4 linked regions of the Homo sapiens genome follow. The protein of the gene in region 3 interacts with the protein of the main gene of each other region in a pairwise test. Each region holds a gene or a part of one and is shown on either strand. Other genes may lie near its edges. The genes, in order: CRY2, ZSCAN1, NPAS2 and RORC.

The links.
Region 1: the proteins of NPAS2 (region 3) and CRY2 interact in a two-hybrid assay, tested with the Homo sapiens proteins (one study listed by BioGRID).
Region 2: the proteins of NPAS2 (region 3) and ZSCAN1 interact in a two-hybrid assay, tested with the Homo sapiens proteins (one large-scale study listed by BioGRID and IntAct).
Region 4: the proteins of NPAS2 (region 3) and RORC interact in a two-hybrid assay, tested with the Homo sapiens proteins (one study listed by BioGRID and IntAct).

The regions. Positions count from the first base shown.
Region 1 is NC_000011.10:45,880,762-45,883,814, reverse strand, and holds the end of CRY2 (cryptochrome-2), read right to left. Parts: intron 2,902-3,053; 3' UTR 571-2,901; downstream 1-570. UniProt on the Homo sapiens protein: Transcriptional repressor which forms a core component of the circadian clock.
Region 2 is NC_000019.10:58,036,914-58,040,831, forward strand, and holds part of ZSCAN1 (zinc finger and SCAN domain-containing protein 1), read left to right. Parts: intron 1-814; coding exon of another isoform or gene 815-923; coding exon 924-1,293; intron 1,294-3,536; coding exon 3,537-3,631; intron 3,632-3,918. UniProt on the Homo sapiens protein: May be involved in transcriptional regulation.
Region 3 is NC_000002.12:100,962,721-100,966,638, forward strand, and holds part of NPAS2 (neuronal PAS domain-containing protein 2), read left to right. Parts: intron 1-1,337; coding exon 1,338-1,456; intron 1,457-2,140; coding exon 2,141-2,223; intron 2,224-2,939; coding exon 2,940-3,046; intron 3,047-3,918. UniProt on the Homo sapiens protein: Transcriptional activator which forms a core component of the circadian clock.
Region 4 is NC_000001.11:151,824,930-151,828,847, reverse strand, and holds part of RORC (nuclear receptor ROR-gamma), read left to right. Parts: intron 1-2,751; exon of another isoform or gene 2,752-2,911; coding exon of another isoform or gene 2,912-2,918; intron 2,919-3,918. UniProt on the Homo sapiens protein: Nuclear receptor that binds DNA as a monomer to ROR response elements (RORE) containing a single core motif half-site 5'-AGGTCA-3' preceded by a short A-T-rich sequence.

The sequences.
Region 1 (3,053 bases), on a different chromosome or scaffold from region 3:
GCTAATAAAGCTTTCAGTCCAAGGCTAGCATCCCCTAGCATGGAAGCAGGGCACACTGCACAGAGAGGGGCCATTCTCTGGCCAGGAGACAAAGCCAGCATCCAGGCGCCCTAGGCTTGGCTGTGGGCAGATCTCAACCACCTAGTCACAGCCAGAGAGCCTGCATCCCCTCCTCACCACAGGCTGCAGCTTAAGTGGCTGCATTGAATTAAAGGATGGATTGAGGGCGTGGAGCAGGCCCTGCACTGACTGACCCCCAGCCTGGGAGGGGGTTTAAGTGGGCTGCAAGGCTGGGTGGCACTGCAGGATGGCACTTAGGACCCTCACTCTGGGCCAGAGTGCTCTGTACTATTTTGGCCAATTGACCCCCAACTCTTGACCAAGCTCTGGACCAACTCTTGACCAAGCTGCTCCAGTCTGCTCTGGCTGCTCCCCCTTCCTAAGGAGGAATAGGAGGCTCCTGACTCCCACAGAACCAAGATGGGGTGGCCGACAGCTTCATTCAGGCTCAGGCTTACCAAAACCCTGGTTCCCAGGCCTCCCACAAGATTGACGACAGCACAAACTTACTCAAGACAGGTCAGACATTTATAAAACAAGTGAATATTCACAAACAAATTGTGGGAGAAACACACCTTCCCAGCAATAGAAAATCTCTATAAAGTGCATTTTGCCTGCAACCATCTCTTCCCCATGCTGGCCCTTGGGTCAGGATTTGAGGCACTGTTCCGAGGGAGCCCTCAGGGCCACCTGAGCTGGGAGAAGGGAGGCATGAAGCCACCATGGAGCTCCAGGCTACTGGACATACCCTCTCTACCCTGCCCTTCCCTCTTGGCTCCAGGAGTGCACTGCCTGACTCCACTGGCAGGTTGATCTGGGAACGGGCTGACATGCTAGGGATGGTGGAGAAGTAGGCGGAGGTGGTCCTGCCAACCTGTACCTTAGGGAAGAGAGCCAGCAGCAGACAGGCAGGAAAAGGAATCATCCTGCTACCCGAAGGCGCTGCTAGTGAATACTAAATCTGGGCCTCGGCCTTTGGCCTTCCCACTCTCAGATTTGCCCTTCCAGGTTTGCTTGACTCTCTTTCTGGCAGTGGCCCGATTCTCTTTCCTCTCGACTGGGGCTGAGGGAACAGGGAAGCCCCCAACCCAATGCTCTGAATGCACACCATCCCCTGTGCCCTGCTCCCCTCCCACGATGATGGGACATTTCTAGTGAAGGTGACATACGTACAACAGTTGGACTCTAAAGGCAGCTCTCTGGCTGAGAAAACCTGAGGATATCTCAGGAAGAAGCCTGTCAGTGTGATGGACAGCTACAGGAGATGGGTCTGACCCCAGGGTTCTGGTCCAAGGACAGAGGACAGTGAGGGACAGGGCTGGGGCCAAAAGAATTAACAGATCTGAGGCTAGGAAAGGTCACAGGGGAGGTAGAAAGGAAAAGGCCCAAAGGCCAGCTTAATGATACACGTGAGGACAAAAATCCAAACAGGAATCAGCCTCATAGCCACACACACACACACGTACCACACACGCACACACACACACACACTTTGTGGCTCAAGTGCAGGCCACAGGGTGGAAGGAAGACTTGCTTTAGTTGGCCACCGTCGTCCTTTTGCATGACATCTTTCTCAACACAGGCCTTTGGCAGTGGGAAGGAAGAGGTGGGAGGCACAGGCCACTCCTGGAATGCAAGGATTGGCTTCTCTGGGTCAAACCTCCCACCTACTGCTCCTGGAAGGAATGGTGTTCTGGGTGTAATCTCTACTTGGACTTTTGCCAACTGCCCCTGGCAGTCCCCATCCCTGAGTCCCTCTGCCTGAGTCCTTGGAGCTCAGCTACTGGGATAGCTGACATGGCAGTCTGGATGCTGACAAGTCCAGGACAGGCCCTGGAAGCCAACAGAATAAAGACTAGAATGGTTTCCCTGGCTGGGTGTCAGCTGTCCTCACTGGCAGCACTGTGGTGCCTTGGAGTGTGGCCAGAGAAACCAGGGGGCCTTACGCCACTGCAACCTGGTCTCCTCCTGGTAGAGTGAGTCAGTTTGACCCTTGCCCCTTCACAGCTCCTGGGTAGGCTCTGAGGCTGGCTCTTAGCTTCTGGGGAAGGAACAATGACAGCTGGGATTCTCTTTCTAATTTTAGGTTCTAAATCCTGAAAAGGTAGGTGTGCTGTCTTAGGCTCCTATTACAGTACCAGGCATACCCCACACCAGTCAGGTATCTGTGTGTACTTCTGTAGGGTGGTGGAAACTTTTTAGATCTGTCTATGGCCTCATGCTCAGTCCCAGAAGCCCAAGGAAGGGCCTGGGACTGAGCCCAGTAGCAGAGAATTTTAAAATAAGAAACAGAGGCCAGGTGGCTACGTCTGGACAGCATCCATCCACTCCGGCCTGCTCAGCCTCCAGGTCAGAAAGCAGGAACTCAGCAGGGCTCTGGCTGCCTCCAGAATCCCATGCTTTGGACAACAGCCAGAACTGCTGTGCTCCTGCTCCACAGCCTGACGTGAGGAGGGAGGGAAGGAGGTCTAGGGAGGCAGATGCCAGAATCCCAGCTAGGGTCCTACCACTACGTTCTGTTCAGACAAGGCAGCTGGCTTGCAGGAACAGGTCTCAGCTGAAAGTCACTGCCATAACCTCGAGCCTTGTGTCTGGAGGCCGGGAAACAGCACTGGCGTGCTACAGGTACTCCCCCAGCCCAGGCAACATTCAGAATCATGAGTGTCAACAGATGCATGCACACACAAACAGGCACACCACTCCCTCCTCTGCACACGCGCACACACACACACATGCTCGCTCTATCTCTGCCCGGTGATCAGCTTCTCTGCAGGTTGTACTCTGCTGCTGCGGTGGCTGCTTGGGCACCCAGGCTTTGCTCACGGAGCAAGGGCTCTGCAGCTGGAAGAGAAAAACAAGTGCAAAAGGAGCATTCAGGAGGCTGCTCAGTTGCCCAGGGACACAAGCTCCTCTGGCTGCTTCTCTGGGGACATTCAGAGCGGGACCTGAGAAGAGCTGAAAGAGTGAGCTGAAAGGGCCACGGTACCTGGGGA
Region 2 (3,918 bases), on a different chromosome or scaffold from region 3:
CTTCAGGTGATCCACCCACCCGGGCCTCCCAAAGTGCTGGGATTACAGGTGTGAGCCACGGCACCCGGCCACAAAAGGTTATTTTAAAATTACTCTTCCCACTTTCCCTCTCTTTTCAGAGTCTCCAGTCTCCCTTGCCCTCTTCCTGGTCTCCACCCCCAGCTTGGACCTGGTAGGAAAGTCAGGAAGACAGCAAAGATAACACCATGGGTAGACCTGCTGCTGGTGGTGGTGTCATCCATTATTATGTAGCCCACCTGGCTGCTTCCATTTAAATGGAATTTAAATTTAAAATTCAGTTCCTATTTCAGGTGCTCCTAGCCACACGTAGGTGGTTGCATGGGTAGAGAATCTTTACATCCCTGTAGGAACTTCACTGGGCAGTGCTGGCCACACCACGGGGCAGGCATTCTTGTTCCCGCAGCTCGTCAGTCAATGTGTGTTGAATGACTAAATGAGAGGGAGATAGACACTAAGTAAGGGGAAAAGTTGTGTTCAGAAAGTCATGGAGGTTATGAAGACAGTGCCATAAGGATGATGGCCAGGACATCTGCGAGGGGAGGAGCTGGGGTGGGAAGGGGAGGGGCTGGGGTGGGATGGCAGGTGCAAAGGTCCTGGGGCAGCCAGTGGCTTGAACTCAGTGCAAAGTAGCCTGTGAGAGGCATGTGGAAGATTAGGTCAGAAGGTGGGAAGAGGTCAGGTTGGTTCCTTGGGGTGCTGGAGGTCAGAACAAGGAAGTAAGGAGCCGAGGGGCATCCTGAGTACAGAGGGCCACCATCTGATGTGACCCCTCTGTCCCTGCCCCTCTCTGCAGGCCCCTGATTGCTGATTCTGTCCGCCTGCCACACCGGCTCTGTCCGGAGCCACTGGGACTCGGGATCCAGTCCACACACACCCCTCAGAGGGGCACTGTGGCCAGAGAAATGCTTCCACGGCCCAAAGCCCCTGCCTCCCCCAGACGCCCCCAGACCCCAACCCCGAGTGAGCAGGACGCAGACCCTGGGCCAGCAAGCCCCAGGGACACCGAAGCCCAGCGTCTGCGCTTCCGGCAGTTCCAGTACCACGTGGCGAGCGGGCCGCACCTCGCGCTGGGCCAGCTCTGGACGCTGTGCCGCCAGTGGCTGAGGCCCGAGGCGCGCTCCAAGGAGCAGATGCTGGAGCTGCTGGTGCTGGAGCAGTTCCTGGGCGCGCTGCCCAGCAAGATGCGGACCTGGGTGCAGTCACAGGGCCCCCGAAGCTGCAGGGAGGCCGCCAGCCTGGTGGAGGACCTCACACAGATGTGCCAGCAGGAAGGTGAGAGGCGCAGGCTTCCTGCCCCGGGCCGGGCCAGGGGGCCTGACGTCTCCGAGGACCGAACTGCCCTCCTTCCCGCCCACATCGCTCCCACCCCTGCCCGGCCCCTCCCGACCAGCAAACCTCTCCTGCCCCGCGGCTGTGTTTTTAATTATTTTTACATATAAATGTGCTGCACGCCTCATCTGCCTCGAATTTCTCACTCAGTCGGTGATTAAAGATCCCTCCATTTCCCATGCGTCCATCTGTCCTGTGGCTTTGTGTCTGCTGCTCCTCACGGCTGCTCTCTGGGAAGGACGCTGCCTCGCCACTTCCTCCCAGCCACCTGCAGCGCCTCCTGCAACACTCAGGAATCCTAGAGATCCTTAAGCCTTCACAGGGCGCAGGCCCCATCGCTGGCTGATGGTGGGGAGAGACGCTTAGGTCTGCATCCCGACTCTGGGAGCTGGGAAATTTGGGGTTGAAACTGGGCTCCCTCCCTGTCTCCTCTCTCAGCTCCCCTCTCCCCTGACAGGGCTTTGTCCTTCTGCATCTTTGCCCCTGTGACCCCACGTCGAGATTCCATCCACCCAGGGCCCAGTCCCATGAGTGGGGCTCTTTCTTTCCTAGTGACAAAAGTGCAGGGATTGGACACTGGGAGGCCAAAAGAGGCAGCCACGGATGGTGAGAGCAGTCGTGGCACTGTGGCCTCGGGAGGGCTTCCCCAGCAGGGCCCCAGCAAGGAGGGTGCCAGGCAGCCACGCTGCAGGAGCAAAGGCTGGGAGTGAGAAGGGTTGCATCAGAGCTCACAGAAAAGAGGGGTGGAGCAAGGGAGAGGAACAGGCCCTCCCTTTGCACCCTCCCACTACAGCATTTCCGTAGACCAACAGTGATAAGCAGTTTGCAGAACACAGGGTCCAGGGTCCCCTTACTGCCCCAGGGCAGCCGGTGCCACACTTAGGAAAGCTGTGACAGCTGAGCTTTCCAGAGGCTCAAGGGTAGCCCTGTAAGCTGCAAGGCAGAAGCCAGATGAATTGGCCCTTTGAACTCTCTGATCCTGGGGTAGAGGGCCCAAGAGCACTGGCTTCTGGCGCTCTGTGGACCTCACAGCCATCCCAGCCCAGAGCCACCCTTGCTAGTTTTAATGTTCCATGGTCACTCTCAAAATTCAACGTTTTTGAGCAAAGGGCTCTCTATCTGTCTTCCATAGCGGTGGTCTGCTTTCTACATTCCATATTTTGAGCCTATGAAACAGTAGAGCAAGTATAATGAACAGCCCTGCACCGGCCACCCACCCTTATCAAAGCCCAACCTAGGAAATGCTTTGTAATCTCAGCACTTTGGGAGGCCAAGGCAGGCGGATCACAAGGCAGGAGTTCGAGACTAGCCTGGCCAACATGGTGAAACTCCGTCTCTACTAAAAATACAAAAATTAGCCGGGCGTGGTGGCGCGTGCCTATATTATATCCCAGCTACTCAGGAAGCTGAGGCAGGAGAATCGCTTGAACCCAGGAGGCGGAGCTTGCAGTGAGCCAAGATCACGCCACTGCACTGCAGCCTGGGCGACAGAGCGAGACTCCGTCTCAAAAAAAAAAAAAAAAAAAAAAGGAACAACCAGTGGAATCAGCTGAACCCCCATGCACGTCTCCTAGTCCTGTTGTCCCCCGCTCTGCCTGACACCCCAGAGGTGGCCGTGATCTTGAATTTTTCTTTTTTTAATTAAAAAATAAATAGGGGGGGGTCTTGCTGTGTTGCCCAGGCTGCTCTCAAACTCTTGGGCTCAAGCAGTCCTCCTGCCTCAGCCTCCCAAAGTGCTGGGATTACTGGTGTGAGCCACCACGCCTGGCCTGGTTCCCACGTCTTGACCCTTCTGTCAATGGTGTCCTGAACCCTGCTTCAGCAGTCGTCCTCTGTGCACTCTGTGCACACAGCCCCGGGGGGCTTGGGGAGCAGAGGGCTCACAGTGCTCGGGCCTCCCTAGTTAGTCAGTGCTGCAGTGTGTGTCCTCGTGGGCTTCTGGAGGCGCACAGGGGTGTGGAGTATGAGTGAAGAGGGTACTTGTCTTCAGCGGCCCTCGGTGTCACCACAGGTTCCTGCCCAGCAGCCACATGGAGGGACAGAATGACAGCCCTGCAGCCACTCTTGCCTGCGCCTCAGGGGTGCTGCAGGGATGTTCGGGGAAAGTCTGCCCTCCCCAGAAGGCCTGGAGAATTGGGGGCTCTGGGAAGAACAGGCCCCTCTCACGATCCCTTTCTCCCGCACAGTTCTGGTATCTCTGGACTCGGTCGAACCCCAGGACTGGAGTTTCGGTGAGGAGGAAGATGGGAAGAGTCCAAGGTCCCAGAAAGAACCATCGCAGGTGAGCCCGGGGCCCCCAGCTCCGTGCTCCTGCACCCCAGGGCATGCGTGCCGCTTCTGGGACGGCCTCAAGGATGCCCCATCCAAGGACTGTGTGAGGTTGTCCCCAGCGCTCCCAGGAAGCCCGGCCTCCAAACTCCCCGCCTGCCCCACAGATTCCCCAAGCTTCCTGGGGCTCAGTGCTGGGCGAGGGCAGTCAGTGCAGCTGTGTGTTTGCTGTGTGCCTCTGGGCCTCACCCCAGCCCCTCCTGTCCTTTCCCAGCCTCGCAGTTAAGACCCATCCTCCTG
Region 3 (3,918 bases):
CATCTAAAAGTAACTAACTTTTTCTCTGGCCCAGAAGGTCAGTCCGTTCTCCACAGTTGCCCTGGAGGCAGGGACCAAGTCCCACAGAGAAGACTCTGCCGAGGCTACTGCAGGTGTGAGACGGCATCATGATGTGGGCCCATGGCTGTGGGCCTAGGACAGTCCCCCCTCTGCCCTGTTAGAACCCTGGGCCTAGAGCCCAAAAACTTGATGGCATCCCTGCTGTTATTTCTGAGTGACCGTGGTTAATTATAGAACCATTCCGGGCCTAGGACAGTAATGCCCTCCTAGATGTTTGAGAAGATGTAAGAAGATGCGTGAGAGCAGATTTTGTCACCTGGGCCACACTAGGGAACTAGCAAGTTTTGTTGTAGGCGTTGTGTTCCTCTGGGGGTGACCCCTAAATCCTGAGCCCTGTCTCCTCAGTGGCCCAGACCCAACCCCTGTATCAGCCTGGGCTCCCAAGGGGGAGTTTCAGGACAGAGGCCCTTGAACCCCAGGTATGCCAGCCAAGACAGGGGCAGGGAAGGGGGTGTCAATGATGCCGAGACACCCCTACTTTCCCTGGGACCATCAGTATCAGGAACACTGATTATAGAATTCACCTTAAAACACTGGCTGGAGTATTCAAACCGTTACTGCAGAATGAGGCTGTCTTCTCTTTTTTTTGTTTGTTTTGTTTTGTTTTGTTTTGTTTTGTTTGGAGACAGAGTCTTACTGTGTCACCCAGGCTGGAGTGCAGTGGTGCTAACTTGGCTCATTGCAACCTCCGCCTCCCAGGTTCAAGTGATTCTCAGCCTCCCAAGCAGTTGGGATTACAGGCACACACCACCATGCCCAGCTAATTTTTGTTTTTGTTTGTTTGTTTGTTTTTTAGTAGAGATGGGGTTTCACAGTGTTGGCCATGGTGGTCTCGAACTTCTGGCCTCAAGTGATCTTCCCGCCTCAGCCTCCCAAAGTGCTGGGATTACAGGCGTGAGCCACTGTGCCTGGCCTGTGTTCTCATTTTGTAGACTATTTTTCCCAGCATTATAAGCCATAGGGCTAGTGGAAGTGAGAGGCAGTGCTGAATGCTGGTGACCAGCATGGGCTCAAATCCCAGCTCTAGCAAGCTTTTTGGTCTTGCACAAGTTACTTCCCTCTGTTCCTCGGTTTCCTCTTTTTGCAATGGGAATAATAGTTGACCTACCTCATCCAGTTGTGAAAATGAAATGAGTTAATATACTCTACATAAACCCTGGGGGCAGCGCTTGGCTTACAGTTAAGTGCCAACTAGGGATTGGCTGCTGTCACCAGACAGGGCTAACCTATGTGTCCTCTTCTTCCCAACCCCCCAGTGCCTAGCCCCTCCTGTAATGGTTTTGACAACACCCTTTCAAGACCTTGCCGGGTGCCACTAGGAAAGGAGGTTTGCTTCATTGCCACCGTTCGTCTGGCAACACCACAATTCTTAAAGGCAAGTACCTGAGAGGCAGTTCATTGTGCGGAGCTGTTATGATTGACTCACATTTTGTTATATGTAATTAATGGTCTTTTGGGAGGGAATAAATTGCAGTGAAGTTGTCACTGGCTTTGAAAATCGAAGTGTCTGGCTTCTGTGCCTGCACACACGCCCTTTCCCCTGCCCCGTTTCCTGCAAGTGGTTCTCTTTGAAGGCAGCATCGCTTGCTGTTCAGCCCGCAGAAGTGCTGTCTGATAACTGTAAATCTTCCCACCTTTCACACCGGCGTTAATACCATGCAGGCCAGGCCTGGGTGAGAACCGAGTGTTGGAGCGCTGGGGGTTTGTCTGCCTTCTCTCATCTGTGATTGCTTCAACATCGATGGCATGAATGTTGAGTTAAATGAGTAATTCAGATTCCGATGAAAAGCCATTTTCCACATGTTTGCCACTTCTCGATAATGGGAAGGGATGGTGTGACATTCTGGCTCCTAGGTATTTTTCCCTAGCTTGTGAAATAAATTTAGTATCAGCTAATACCGAAATTAGCTACAGATGATGAGTTTCAGTCCAACACGACTTGGAGACTTGCTCGAAATGATTTTAACTTCTGTTACCCACCACGCGTTCCTCTTGAACAAACCTAGGGTGAGCATCTGGCACCCAAGCAACTTTTTTTTTTTTTCTGCTTCCAATACAGGAAATGTGCATAGTTGACGAACCTTTAGAGGAATTCACTTCAAGGCATAGCTTGGAATGGAAATTTTTATTTCTGGATCACAGGTTTGAGAAAAGAAAAACATATTTGGGTTGGGCCCTTCTCAAGTCTTGTTTGCGTGAGCCAGGCTCTCCTTGGGAGAGAAGAGTCGGCCCTGGTCCATTGAAAGAGGAGGACTCTCTGGCACTAGGAAAAGTCGTCCCTGCCAAGGGTGGGTGGTTTCCCTCCAACTTCATCTGCCCCATCGTGAATATGTTCTGTGTTTGGGTCTGATGGCTCAGCCCCGGGCCATCTTTGGGATGATCCTCACTTGAGGCCCTTCCCGGCTCCCAGTAAGGCAGCAGCAAGTGTGAGAGAAATCTCTCATCTCATTTTTTTCAACATCCTTTGATCTTTTAGCCCAATCTTTACTGTTTCTTTTGTAACATTATTTGCAGTTGAAGAACTCCAAATCTCCCCTCCCCACCCTTTAATTTATATTACACTTTGGTGTTGGGCTGATCCAATTTGTAGCTGTTTTTAATTACCCAGTAGTGATAAAGCTTATTGTTATTTGGGCCAAGTTATGCCAAGGGAAAGGAGTATCTATATGCCAAAAAAAAAAGCTGAGCCCTTTGGAAAACACAGCCTCTCTGATTTTGACCATTACAAAGTTATTTTTCTCCCCTTGTTCTTGAGAAATGAGGCCTCCATGTTGATCATTATGGAAAGGCATGGCCACCAGGGTGAGCCCTGCAGGGTGTCTCCTCCCTGATGACAAGTCCTCCTTGTCCTTGTGCAGAGCACCTCCAATCATAGGATACCTGCCTTTTGAAGTGCTGGGAACCTCAGGCTATGACTACTACCACATTGATGACCTGGAGCTCCTGGCCAGGTGTCACCAGCACCGTGAGTACCACTGCCCAGCCCAGGCATGGGGGCCTTGCGTTCACTCCACTGGGGCCCAGCAGCAGGGCTCTGGGACTCCAGAAGCCTCTGCTCGTTACCTGGTTTCTTTTTAAGGTGAGGAACTTGGTTTTCTCTGAGATGATCTGGGGGCATGGTGGAGGCCCCTTATCCGCGTCTACCCCCATGTCACTGGAATTCACTTGGCCCCAAACCCTAGCACCTTCCCACTGTCATCCAGATAGGCGCCCTGTTTAAACCTAATTAAGAAATTAAGGTGATGCAGGGATTTTTTTTTTTAAGTTATGCAATACATTTCAGAGATAAAATACCGAATTCTCATAACTGTTCTTTCATCAGCAGATAAGTATTGGTCACTAACCATAGGCCAGATACTGAGTAGGCTGGCATATGGGGATGATCAGTACCTACTTGCTGTCCCGCAGGGCAGGTCTTCTGGGAAAGCCAGAAATGGGTGACTTTGTGGGATGTGGTCGGTGCATTGAAGGGGATGTACACAGCATACTGGGGGACTCAAGAGGACCCTCACAGCTGGGGTTCAGGGAAGGCTCTTTGCCACATACGAGGCGAACACATTAGCAAATGTATGGGGGATGGGACTTACGATGTGGGGGAGTGAGAATTACAAGCTTGTCCGAGTTCTCACTTAGCAAGTGGTTTCAAGAATTAACCACTTACAGCTGTATTTTCAGTGCCAACTCTTAACTTGAAATAGGAACACTGACCTATTGATCCTAATGCATGAATCGACCACTAACATTGTGCTTTAAAAGATGCCTCACCTGTAGTACCCATTAGAACTTTTTTTTTTTTTTTTTTTTTTGAGACAGACAGATTCTCGCTCTGTCACCCAG
Region 4 (3,918 bases), on a different chromosome or scaffold from region 3:
ACCACCACGCCTGGCTAATTTTTGTATTTTTAGTAGAGACGGGGTTTCACCATGTTGGTCAGGCTGGTCTCAGACTCTTGACCTTGTGATCCACCCCTCTCGGCCTCCCAAAGTGCTGAGATTACAGGCATGGGCCACTGTGCCCAGCCTGCACCAAGCTCTGTGGTCCTGAGCCAGGTTTGGTGTTCATCTCTGTGGTTAACACATCCTGAGGTGTGAACAAGCCTGGAGCCAGCCTGTGCAGGACTAGAGAGCAGGAGAGCTTTATCTCTGTAGGAAACAGAATGGACAGGGGCACTCTGTGTCCTGGGGCCCTGAAAGCCAGACTACAGCAGGTAAGAAGGGCACTAGAGCTCAGAGAGGACTTCCCAGTGGACGCTAGTGAATAAGAATCCTCTCTAGGGACCACTCAGCACATCAGCTCTCCTCTCCTAGTTTGTGGCAAAGGCTAGTCCCCCAGAGAATGCACACAGTCCCAAAGCTATGCCCATCAGGGCCATGCGTGCCCTTCTGTGAGCATGGGTCCCTGAATCGAGAGGATCCCTCCAGGGTAGGAGTGGCCACACCATTTCTCCATAGCCGTCCCTTGACTGCCTTGCCAGTTCCTCCTGAGAGCTCACTGCCATCTCGCCCAATGCCAAAATTGTCTAGAGCCTCCCTGTTCCAAGTAGAGACATCTCAGAGAGCAAAGCATTGCCCTTCTCCATGAGCTGGGCAGCCCAGGGCTGAGGGCCATCCAGGATGCTACCTCCTCCTGGGTGGGGGTTGCTTTGCTCAGCATAATCCTGATCAGTGTCTCGCCTGCCCCTAGCCACAGGGCCCCACGGAAATGCTGAGCAGGGCCCCGGGAGGAAAGCGGGTCAGGGAGTGACGCGGGTGAGCTGGGGGAGGGGGGTCACGGACCTTATGTGGGTGGGGGGAGTAGGGGGACTTTCGGAGCAGCAGGAACTGGGAGAGGTCAAACCCTATTCCTACCCTTAACCCCTGACCTCAGAAACCTCAGCCAGGACTATACCTCCTTATCCCTTTCCCATCCCACCAGTCCTCGTGTCCCCACCCCAAGAGTGTTGTCCTGAGGATCCAGGCTGACAGCCTCTCCCCCACTCCACGGCCCAGCTCCTGAAGCCCCAGGAAGGCCCAGGAAGGCAAGGAAAGGCCTGTGCCTGGATGAGAGGGTCTGGAGTCCCAGCAAGATCAGACACCTCTCAGGAGTTTGCCCCACAGAATCCAGGAGACATTAAGGCCTCCCCCAGGCCGAGAGACTCTGAAAATTGGCTCCTGAATTGAGACAACCCCAAGATGGGGGTCCAAGATGGGGAACCCGGGGGAACTCCCCAGACCAAGAGGGAGCCTGAATACTGAGGGGCCCTGAAGAGGGACTCTCAAAGCCAATGTACCCCACAAAGCACCTAAGAGGCTGAGAAGGTCTCTGGAATTGTTTGGCCCCTGAGAAGGACCCCCCTCCCCCAGGCCAAAAAACACTCCAGAGAGACTCACATACCGAGGGACCTCCCAGGCTGAGACACCCTCAAAAGCAGACTTGAACCAGAGAAACCCTCCCATCCTTCAAGTGGGATCCGAAGCCAGTCTGCCTGGGCTTGAATCCTGACTCTGCCACTTACTAGCTGTGTAACCTTGGGCAAGTTACTTAACCTCTCTGTGTCTCACTTTCCTCCTCGAAATGAGGATAATGGTAGCTACTTCATAAAGTTTTTTTATTTTTTCTTTTTGAGACAGAGTCTTACTCAGTTGCTCAGGCTGTAGTGCAGTGGCATTATCTCAGCTCACTGCAAACTCCGCCTCCCGGGTTCAAGCGATTCTCCTGCCTCAGCCCCCTGAGTAGCTGGGACTACAGGTGCTCGCCACCATGCCTGGCTAATTTTTGTATTTTTAGTAGAGATGGGGTTTCACCATGTTGGCCAGGCCGGTCTCGAACTCCTAACCTCAGGTGATCCACCCACCTTGGGCTCCCAAAGTGCTGGGATTACAGGCGTGAGCCACTGCCCCCGGCCCACATAAAGTATTTTGTGAGGATTAGATTATCCACATAAAACATCGAGAACCATTTCTGACACATAATAGTAAGCACTATTATTATGATTATGAGTATGATGATGGTGATGATGATCATTATCTACACTCCAATTTCAGCAGTTTGGCTCCTAAGGAAATTTCTGGTTTCCTTCTGTGGATTGTGGGTATTTGCCTGGTGATTATTACTGCTTCTATCATTTCCATGTATTCCCTAGCGCAAGATATATGTGGTGTCTGCAGGGAGGAGCGTGGGCATGGGAGTGGTGGGACAGCCCCCCAGGCTGCACCACACTGGGTATGGCTGTTGGCAGTCCACAGGGTGTCAGGTGGCACATGCCACCACCCCAGGCAGACATCCTGTGACTTACCTCTGAAAACATCCCTGTCCCTGAAGTCACCTGGCAAAGAGGGTCAGGCTTGGAAGGTCCTCGGGGGTAGGAGGAGTAGAAATTTGGCTTCAGGCTCGTGTGAGCTCCATTCTGGCTCCCCAGCCAGAACTACCCTGGCGGGTGGAAACAGCTTTTACCGCGTGTGGCTGTCGCATGTGGTTTTGGAATTTTCCAACGCCCCCTACGATTGGCTGCCCCTCCCCTCACACCCTGCCCCAGGCCCAGATTGGCCACGTGGGGCGCCTGTCATCCTACTCACTGCACCCCTTGGGGGTGGGGTGGGGGGTTGTCACTTGGCCACCTGTGTGGTGCAGAGCTTAAACCCCCCAGTCCAGAAGCACTGGGGGAGAGAGCTAGGTGCAGAGCTTCAGGCTGAGGCGCTGCTGAGAGGGCCTCGCCCCGCCTCTGCCGCCAGCTGCACCCCACTCCTGGACCACCCCCTGCTGAGAAGGACAGGGAGCCAAGGCCGGCAGAGCCAAGGCTCAGTCATGAGAAGTAAGTGAATGGGGCCACCTGGGGGCGGGGGAGCCTGGACCCTGTCGTCACCCCTCTGGAAAGGAGGATGTCTTGGGAACAGTGTGAGCAAATCTGAGCAAAGCAGGGTGCGTCCTGGTCAAGGTCAAGATCTGTTGGGAGATGGGTGGAGCAGCTGGGGAGTCCTGCTGGCCAGGCGGCTCCCTGACAGCAGCAATGGTAAGAGGACTGTTGAGGAATTCCTGAGTTCCAAAAAGAACCTCCAAAAGTATCTGAGGTATCCAGGCCCTTAATTTTACAAAAAGACTGAGAGCCAAGGAGGCCGCGTACTTGGCCCAATGTTACACAGCTGGTATCTGATGGGGGCTGGTAATTACTAGGGGCCCTGAACGCACTCTCCTGTTACAGTGTTTCCCTTGTTACGGTGTTTCCCTCTGTGCCTCCAGCCTGCTTGTGAGTAAAAGGAGGCCAGAGCAGTTGCTGTGCTCTGAAGCAACAGGACAGCGAGAGTCAACTGAGGTTGGCAGGCAGCAGGGCACAGAATCCCCGCGTCCAGGCCTCAAAGCCACCAGGCTTTCTGCCCAATCCAGGGACATGAGGACTATGTGGAATCCAGTCAGGGTGCACCCGGGCACATGCCTGCGTGTGTGTGCATGTGTGTGTGTGCGTGTGTGTGTGGGGTGTGTGTGTATGTGTGTGTGTGGTTCTCCAGGGTCAGTCACCCATTTGACCGGGGAAGCAAGGCAATGGAGATGGGATTGGAAAGACCTCGGCCTCACCCTTTTCCTGGCTTGGAGCCCTGGGCCAACAGTTGGTGGGCAGATGTCTGGGGTTCCTGTGCCTTCCAGCAGAGCAAGGGTGGGCAACCTCAGGAAGTCCCCTGTATTTGTTGTGAAGGGAAGCCAGGGAAGCCAGAGAAGCTCTCAGAGCACAAGGTGAAGGAGGAAAAGGGAAGCCCCATGCCCCTGTGGCTGAGGCCTGAAGCAGCCCCAGCTTCAACCTGGGGTCTTCCCACAAGCCA